2 separate regions of the Homo sapiens genome follow, and region 1 is linked to region 2. Evidence: fine-mapped QTL for protein levels in blood plasma. Region 2 holds a variant in brackets. A gene starts in the other region. All regions are shown on their reverse strands. Region 1 holds the start of MYOM3 (myomesin 3). Region 2 overlaps LOC102723370 (a long non-coding RNA gene).

Evidence for each region. PIP is the posterior inclusion probability: the model's chance that the variant is causal. Protein levels are from antibody-based Olink assays in UK Biobank. Linkage for the fine-mapping came from a reference panel and not from the study's own genotypes, which makes the PIPs less certain.
Region 1: MYOM3 starts here. The variant in region 2 is fine-mapped to the plasma level of the MYOM3 protein (UK Biobank, PIP above 0.99).

What each region holds. Positions count from the first base shown.
Region 1 is chr1:24,110,036-24,114,427 of GRCh38, reverse strand. MYOM3 (myomesin 3) reads left to right here and starts at 2,293. Exons shown (of 37, transcript NM_152372.4): 1 at 2,293-2,397. RefSeq lists an enhancer at 1,583-2,091.
Region 2 is chr11:21,937,316-21,941,707 of GRCh38, reverse strand. All of the region lies in intron 2 of LOC102723370 (a long non-coding RNA gene), which reads right to left. Among named protein-coding and RNA genes, the nearest start is that of ANO5, 250 kb to the left of the region's middle. The variant T/A (reference allele first, on the strand shown) is at 2,525.

The DNA.
Region 1 (4,392 bases), not on the chromosome of region 2:
CATTTTCAATGAGACAGCTAAGTGGAAATTGTTGTCTTCAACTGTACAGATAATCAAACCACACTGGCTGAGTGCCTTCCCCAAGGTCATCCAGCTAATAAGTGGTGGGACTGAATTGAAAGCCTAAGCCGGTTTGACTCCAGGATGCACCCTGTCTCTCCAGTGCACCTTCATTCATCTCCCCAGATTGCCTTGGGAGGACGGGGCTAGAGGACCTGTTTAAATGACTGTCTCCTGCTCAGTTGGAAGCTCAAAGCCCTCTTTGCTGTTCGTACGGATTCACTCACACTCATCCCTCACAGCAAATGTATGAAGATGAGTCTTGGAAAGCCCTTGTTCGATTGGGTCAATAGAAGATGGGAGAGAAATGTTCTCTCCCAAAAGATGCTGTAAGAGAGAGCCACAGAAGAGCTTAGAAAGGGGTTTTCAAATAGGGCAGGGGATTCAGATTTTGCCTGCAAAGTTCACTTGTGCTCTCTCTCTCCTTCTCTCGAGTGAGGAGTCCCTGAGGCACCAGCAAGAGTGACAGGTGTAGTGTGGGTGGCCACCTGAGGTCGCAGGAAGGGGTGAGGGAGGGAAGCTGTGCTCTCTGGCTAGGGGCCGGTACAGCCTTCCCCTCACCGGCTCATCCTCTGAGACTCGACCCAGGTGCACCTTCCTGATCACCTCCTGTCGTAAGTGCCTGACTTCCCCTGTAGGTTAGGGTCTGGCATAGGGTAGGTGCCAATGAATGTGAGGGGGAAAGAATTGAGACTGAGGGAATGGCAGGAGAGGGCAAAGGGTGGGAAGAGGTGTGGTGCCGAACACCTATTAACCTCAGTAGGGAAGGCACCAGGTTTGAGAGGCCAAAGAAAAGATCCATAGCCAGCAAACGGAACATGGGGGTTTCAGGAGGCGGAGGTTGCAGTGAGCTGAGATCATGCCACTGCACTCCAGCCTGGACAACAAAGTGAGACTCTGACTCAAGAAGGAAAGAAAGAAGGAAAGAAGGAAAGAAAGAAAGAAAGAAAGAGAGAGAGAAGGAAGGAAGGAAGGAAGGAGGGGGGGAGGGAAAGAAGGAAAGAAGGAAGGAAGGAAGGAAAGAGAAAGAAGAAAGAAAGAAAGAAAGAAAGAAAGAAAGAAAGAAAGAAAGAAAGAAAGAAAGAAAGAAAGAAAGAAAGAAAGAAAAAGAAAGGGAGAGAAGGAAGGGAAGGAAGGAAAGGAAGGAACGTGGGGGTTTGTTAGGGGCTTGCCTACAGGAGAGAGAGTCCACTGGTGATGAACTGGACAGGAGAACCGCCTTACATACAGAAATGGTCCAGGGGCGGCGGGCTGGACAACATACCAGTGGCGGCCGACTGGGCAGGAAAACCTCAGCCCCTTGCAAACAGCATGCAGTTTATAGAGCATTTTCACTTTACACCATCCCCTAATGACCTCCACCTGGCAATCTTCATTTAACCCAAAACTCAGGGCCTCAATCCCCTGTATGGCCAGCGTTCCACCAGAAGGGACGGGACGGGGGCTCAGATATTCATCGTAGGTAAGAAACGGGTTGGCTACTCCCCAGATTCCTTAGCTCGGAACACATATTCAGGTCTTCCACACAGGGTCATTCTTGGAGCGTGCTTCAGTTATCCCTGTCAGGTGCGTTTACCCTATAAGAAGGCCCTTCAGGGGACACTCTGGCAGCCTGAGCAGTTTGCACAGTGAAGCAGTAGGTGGCTCCCCAGCTCCTCCTGCCTGCACCACACCACACACACATGACTGTGGTCAGGGCGGGGGCCGTGTAGTAACTACCGGAGTGGTGGAGGGACCAGGAGCCACACATTGCTGTTTTAGCCAGTGACAACTTCTGAGCACGAAACACTCACTTTTAGGTCATATTCCTTCCACCGTCTTCATGAAGTCCAGGTGCCCAGTCTCACTGTCTCCGTTTTTCAGAAGGCAGTCAGTTCAGGGAAGCTGAGCGCCTTCCCCAGGGCACCCAGTCAGCCGGGGCAGAATTCAGATCAGAACTCCCGACAGCTGAGAACGCCGCACGGGATCTGCCCTCCATACGACCATGCCTGAGCCGTTCCCTCCTTTCCATTTTAACAGGGGCTTGGGTTGGGCAGAAAGGACCCAGCTGAGAGGAGGAGCAGTGTGGGGGGACGCGGCGGACAGCTCCACCTGTCGCTGCTGCCCAGCAGGCTGGAGACACGGAATGGCCCCTCCCCTTGGCCCCCTGTCCCCGATGCCATAGTTCTCATCCATTGTCATTGTACTGTCTCAGTGCTGCTATATTTAAGACGGTGCAGTCTCCGGGATCGCATTCTTCTCCCGGTGCCCGCTGAGCCGAGGGCAAGAAGAGAACAAGGACCCTCTCGGCCTCAGGAATCTTCTCCCCAGAGACTCCTAAGTGGGCACACTGCTTCTGTGAGTCACCCCCAGAAATCAGGGTGGGGGAGGGATGCCTCCTAAGAGTCAGCCACTGGGGAGTGATATCTGTGGGTGCATGTGTGTGTGTGTGTGCACGTGTGTGTGTTTGTGTGTATGTGTGTTGTGTGTTGTGAAAGGAGCCTGGGAAATTTGTGCTGAGGCAGCACCCAAGTGAAAATGGGAGGGGATTCCAGAAACCCCTGCCCCATCCCACTGTTCTGTGTGGCCCTGGGTCTTCTGAGAGCTGAGCTGTCTGTGATGTGAAAGTTGCAAAAAAAAAAAAAAGAGTGGGGGCTGCCCTGGGAACTGGAGTCTTTCCTGTGATGGAGCAGCGATAAGCGGGAGCCAGGCTAAGCTGGCAAGTTCCACGAACTTAGAGCGGAGCTGGCTGAGCCCGGCTTGGCCAACCCCACAGGCAGGGAAAGAGAGCGAGCCCTCGGATCCCAAATCTTAGAGCTGGAAGGGATTTCATCCAGTGCCTGACAGGAAACCGAGGCCCAGACGGGAAAGGAGTTGCCTCAGCTCATGACTGGCAAGGGCAGGATTCGGCCTCGCGGAAGCTGGTGGAGCCACTGGCTAAGAACACGTCCCAGCCTGTGCCACCCGCCGCCCGCAGGATGTGTCTCTGCTCCCAGCCACCATCCGCCCCCATCGCAGCTCCTGGAGGGGTCTTGGCTCAACTGCTGTGCATTCCTCTTTCCCTCCTGAAGAAGGGGAGAGGCCTCCTCGGCAGATGGAGGCTTGGGAGGAAAGCAGAGGGGAATAGGGAAGGCCACGCAGTGGGACCTCTGGCCCAGATTTTTGCACCCCAAGAGAGGGAAGCGGGGGCAGTTTCCCCTCCACGCAGGCACACACAGTGTTCCGGGAAGAGGCACCCTGGTCCTTTGGGAAAGGGCAGTGAGGCCGCAAACTTGTCCCTGCTTAATACCACGCATCAGTCAGTGCTTTAAAAAGAATTGGTAGCTCATCCGCTAAAGCCAGGGGTCTGGTTGCTGGAGGCCCCGAGGTCAGGGACGAGCGCCAGGCCCCTGCCTGCTGTGCTAATCGGGAACAGAGCATCCAGGGGAAGGGAGCCAGTGGCTGGTGCCAGGGAATGTTAACTCTCAGCCACTGGAGCCAGGGCCATCGTGTCCCAGGAAAGCTGGGGCAGAGTGGGGGGTCCTTGCTCCACCTAGGGTGGTACCCAGCAGCTCTCCTCCTGGGCCATGAGGAAGAAAGAGCAGAATGAGCAGGGCTAGCCACTTCTTTGGGTGCAAAGAGAACTTCTTCCATCGGGAGGGAGTGATACGAAGCCAAAGAGGGTGACTGTCCCATTATGTCATTTGAGATGATTAGCAGGAGCCCAGGGAGCTTTAGGGGGCAGCCCTTGGTCCCAGCTAACCCTGCAGCCATCCATTCTCTTTTTCCTGATGCCCACAACTGCAGACACCCAAAAGGAGCAAACTTCTAGGAAGTAGAAGGGGTAAAAGCCCACTAAGACTGACCCTCCACAGCCCGAGCCCCAGACACCTCCACCACATGCCCCTTCCAGGCCAACGGCTCTCCAATAAAGCCAGTGGGCTCACCTTCCATGCCATGGACTTAGAGAAATGGTCACCTAGGTGCTGTGTTCACATCCAGGCAGAAGACAGCCTACACATGCACGCACACACACACATACACACACATGCACGCCCACACACACACACGCTGCCACCTCCAGCAGGACCCTCTAGAGAGGCAGGGGCCAGACAGAGCTGACCCCACAGAAGCTGACAGGAGCAGGCCAAGGCAGGCGGTCATCCCTCTTCTGTTTCCATCCCCACGCCTGGGCAGGAACCCTCCCATGCCAGAAGCCTGCAGACCAGGATTCCCACCTGGAGGAGGTGTGAAAGCCATTCCAGGGATTTTAGCTTTAGCATCAGGGGGGCCCTCAGAGACCCAGCAGTGACTGAAGCCCGGATATGAGAAAACTCAGTGCAAAAACCCACAGCCAGCGGGCACACGGGCCTC
Region 2 (4,392 bases):
AAAGGAGAAAATCTTTGCCATCCAGGGGTAGACAAAGAGTTTGTAGATTTGACACTAAAAGCATGATCCGTAAAATAAAAATTTGGTATGTTGGAGTTTATAAAAATTGAAAACTTTCTTCTGTGAAGGACCCTCTAAAGAGAATGAAAATATAAGCTACAGAATAAGAGAAAACACTTGTAGACCACATATCTGAGCTATCAGGAAAAAGTGAAGAACTCTCAAAACTCACCCGTTAAAACAAAATCCAATTATAAAATGAGCAAAATACATGAAAAGATACTTCACCAAAGAAGAAATATATAATGCAAATAAACATATGAAAAGACGCTCAACATCAGTCATTAGAGAAATTCACATAAAAGTATAATGCAATATCACTATAAACCTCTTAGAGTGGCTAAAATAAAAGAGTAGCAATATCAAAAGTGGGAAAGAATGTAGAGAAACAATGTGTTAGTTTGCTAGGGCTACTGTATAACAATATATGGCAGGCTGGGTTGCTTAAACAACAGAAATGTATTTCCTCACAGTTCTGGAAGCTAGAAATTCTACATCAAGGTGCTCTCCAGTTTGGTTTCTCTCTTCCTGGCTCGCAAACAGTTGCTTTCTCTTTATGTCTGTGCAAAGCATTTTCTCTGTGTGTGTATATGTTACAGGAACTCTGGGATTTGGTCTAGATACTGCTGCTTACCACACAAAAAGCCAATCACTGAGCAGAAAATGACCAGGGAAGAGGCTTTATTCAGGTGCTGCAGCAGAGGAGTTGGGAGATCAGTCTCAAATCCATGTCCCTGACTAACTAAAATTGAAGGTTTATATAGCAGAAAAGGAATGTAGCTATGTGCAGGAAAACAGCAATTAGAGAGGGGTAAGGAAGAGGAGTTGGTCAATAGGAAGCAGGTGGTCCCTTAGTAAACCAATAATTACAGCAGGTAAAGAAACAATCACGATGAATGAGGGGGTCTGGTGTCTCATTGCCCAGATGTGATGATTGGTTAAGTTTCAATTTCTTGATACTATCTGGGAGGCCTGATGGTTGGTTTCCTGAGAAAGAAACTCAGATAAGGCAGTTGTAAGTTTCTCAAGTTTTAAGACTGGCAGGGCCAATTTTTATGATTATCCCATAAACTATCTATGGCACAATTAGGTTGGTTTCACACAAAAGGAGAGAAAATGATCTTTGGTGTTGCTTCCTGTTATAATAAGAACATCATTCATATGGGATTAGGGACCCACTCTCGTGACCTCACTTAAACTAATTACTTCCCTAAAGGCCCCATCTCCAAATACAGCCACGTTGTGGGTTAGGCATTCAGCATATGAATTTTGGAGGGATACAGTTCAGCCCATAACAACAGGTACCTTACAGATTTCTGGAAAGAATGTAAAATTACACAGACACTGAAAAACAGTTTGGTGGTTTCTTAAACTAAAACTGCAACAACTATGTGATTATACTCTTAGGCATAAATCTCAAAGAAATAAAAACCTATGCTCACAAAAAAATCCTGCATGTAAATTTTTATAGCAGCCTTTTTATTTTTCATAATGGCCAACAACTAGAAACAAACCAGATGTCCTTTAATGTGTGAATAGTTAAACAAACTGTTGTACATTCATACTATGGTATTGATAGGAACAAACTACTGATACATGAAAAACTTGGATGAATCTCCAGAGAATTTGCTAAGTAAAAACATGAATTCAAAAATGTCATATACTCTATGATTCCATTTGTACAACATTTTTGAAATGACAAAATTATAGAAATTGAGGACAGATTAGTGGTTTCCACAGTTAACCAGGTGTTGTGGTGTGTGTCTGTGGTCACAGCTACTTGGGAGGCTGAGGTGGGAGGATTGCTTGAACCTGAAAGGTGGAGGTTGCAGTGAGCTGAGATTGGGCCACAGCACTCCATCCAACCTGGGTAAGAAAGTGAGACCTTGTCTCAGTAAATATATAAATATAAAAAGGCAACAAAAGAGTTAATTGTGTTGATAGAAAATATTTGTGTCTTAACTATATAAACCTCAATATTCTAATTCTGTTATTATACTAAAGTTTTGCAAGGTGTTGCCACTGGGGGAAATTAGATAAAAGATATATGGGGTTTCTCTGAATTATTTTTTACATCTATGTGTGAATCTATAATTGTTCAATATAGAAAGTTTAATTTAAAAAAAGACAGCTTTTACCTTTCATGGAGGGAGGAAGTGCTGAGGTATGCTGAGAAGATGGGGCTCATATAACCCTCATCTCAGTTTATTATAATTCAATGTTCACACCAGGAGAGGTTGAGAAGACTAGAGGCTACATAGCCCCTGCTCACAACCTTGGGGCCAAAGCAAGAAAGTCATGAAGACAAAAGCAGGCCACTGGCTCTACATTCATATCCGGATGCATTGTCATTTCAACAATGTCCATGATTTCTTCACCAGGAGGAGATTCCATCTCAATAAATCACTTTCTTTGCTCTTTCATAAGAAGCAACTCCTCATCCCTTCAAGTTTTAGTATGAGAC[T/A]GCAGCAATTCAGTCACATCTTCAGACTCTACTTCTAATTCTAGTTGTCTTGCTATTTCTATTTAATACCACATCTGCAGTTACTTTCTCCACTGAAGTCTTGAATCCCTCAAATTCATTCATGAGTTTTGGAATCAACTTCTTCCAAACTCCTGTTCATGTCGATATTTTGACCTCCTCCCATGAATCATGAATTTTCTTAATGGCATCTAGAATGGTGAATTCTTTCCAGCAGGTTTTTAATTTAATTTGTCCAGATCCATCACACAAATCACTCTTTATGGCAGCTATAGCCTTATGAAATATATTTCTTAAATAAGAAATGCCTTTGAGAGTTGAAAGACTTGAAAGTAGAAATTACTCTTTGATCCATGGACTGCAGAATGGATGTCCTTTTAGCAGACATAAAAACATTAACTTTTTTGTTCATCTCCATCAGATCTCTTGGGTGACTAGGTGAATTCTCAATAGCAGTGATATTTTGAAAGGATTTTTTTTTTTTCTGAGCAGTAAGTATTAACAGATAGCTTAAAATATTCAGTAAACCATGATGTAAATAGATGTACTGTCATTCAAGCTTTGTTCTTACATTTGTAGAGCACAGGCAGAATAGATTTAGGGTAATTTTAAAGAGCCCCAGGATTTTCAGAATGGTAAATGAGCATTGAGTTCAACTTAAAGTCACCAGCTGCATTACCCCCTAAGAAGAGAGTCAGCCTGTCCTTTGAAGCTTTGAAGCCAGGCATTGACTTCTCCTCTCTATCTATGAAAGTCATAAATGGAATCTTCTTCCAATATAAGGCTGTTTTGTCTATATTCAAAGTCTGTTGTTTAGCATAGCCCTCTTTATCAATTGTCTTAGCTAAATTTTCTGGATTACTTACTGTAACTTCCACATCAGCATTTGCAGCCTCACCTTGCACTTTTATGATATGAACAAAACTTTATTCCTTTAACTTATGAACTGACCTCTGCTAGCTTCAAGTAACTGAAGGCAAATTAAAGAATCACATCAAGTTATGATTATAGCACAAAGGAGTTGAGTAGGAACAAAGCTATATTTGATTAAGGAACTCACACCAGACAGGAATTCAAATATACAAACACAAATGCCAAGAACCAGAAATAGTAAATAAGAAGGGTACTATAATAAATGCTGCGAATATATGATTGCTGTTCTTTCTCCTCTCAGCTTTTCTGAGAGACACCAAGTTTATATAAAGAAAGAATTATAACAACGTATTGTTGGCTACTTTCTTTGTATATGTATCACAAAGTCATCATTTTGTCAATCAAAAGGTTTTTTTTTTCACATAGTCTACTAAAGTAGGAAAAGTGAGACTATGTTTAATTTTAAAAAATTATTGTGGACAGAGTATGGGTTTATAATTAAAGCTATCAATGACGTATTTGGTTTTCTCTGCAATGAATCAAACTTTCACAAGCAGTGAAAAAATTACCAATGCTGCATAATTAGACAGAAAAGGATAAAACCATATTTAAATACTTTGTTTTCAACCACTGTCAAGATCCATTAATAATAAAGACCACATGTACATAGCATTCCCTATATACCCAGCAGCATTCTGAGTGCTTTCCGTTTATTAATTTCTTTAATCTTCAAAACTCTCTGAGGGAGAAACTGCTGCTGTATCTTTTTTTTTTTTCTTTTTCTTTTTTTTTCAGATGAGGAAACTGAAGCACGGACAAGTTAAGTGATTTTTCCAACATCACACAGACACGAAATGGTGGGAGTAGAATTTGAACTCAGGCATTCTGGTGTGAAGGTCTGCACAGTTAAACACTAGGCTATCCATTTTAAGATTTTTTCTTTAAAATAGTGTTGTTATGTAGGCTCTGAGACAAAT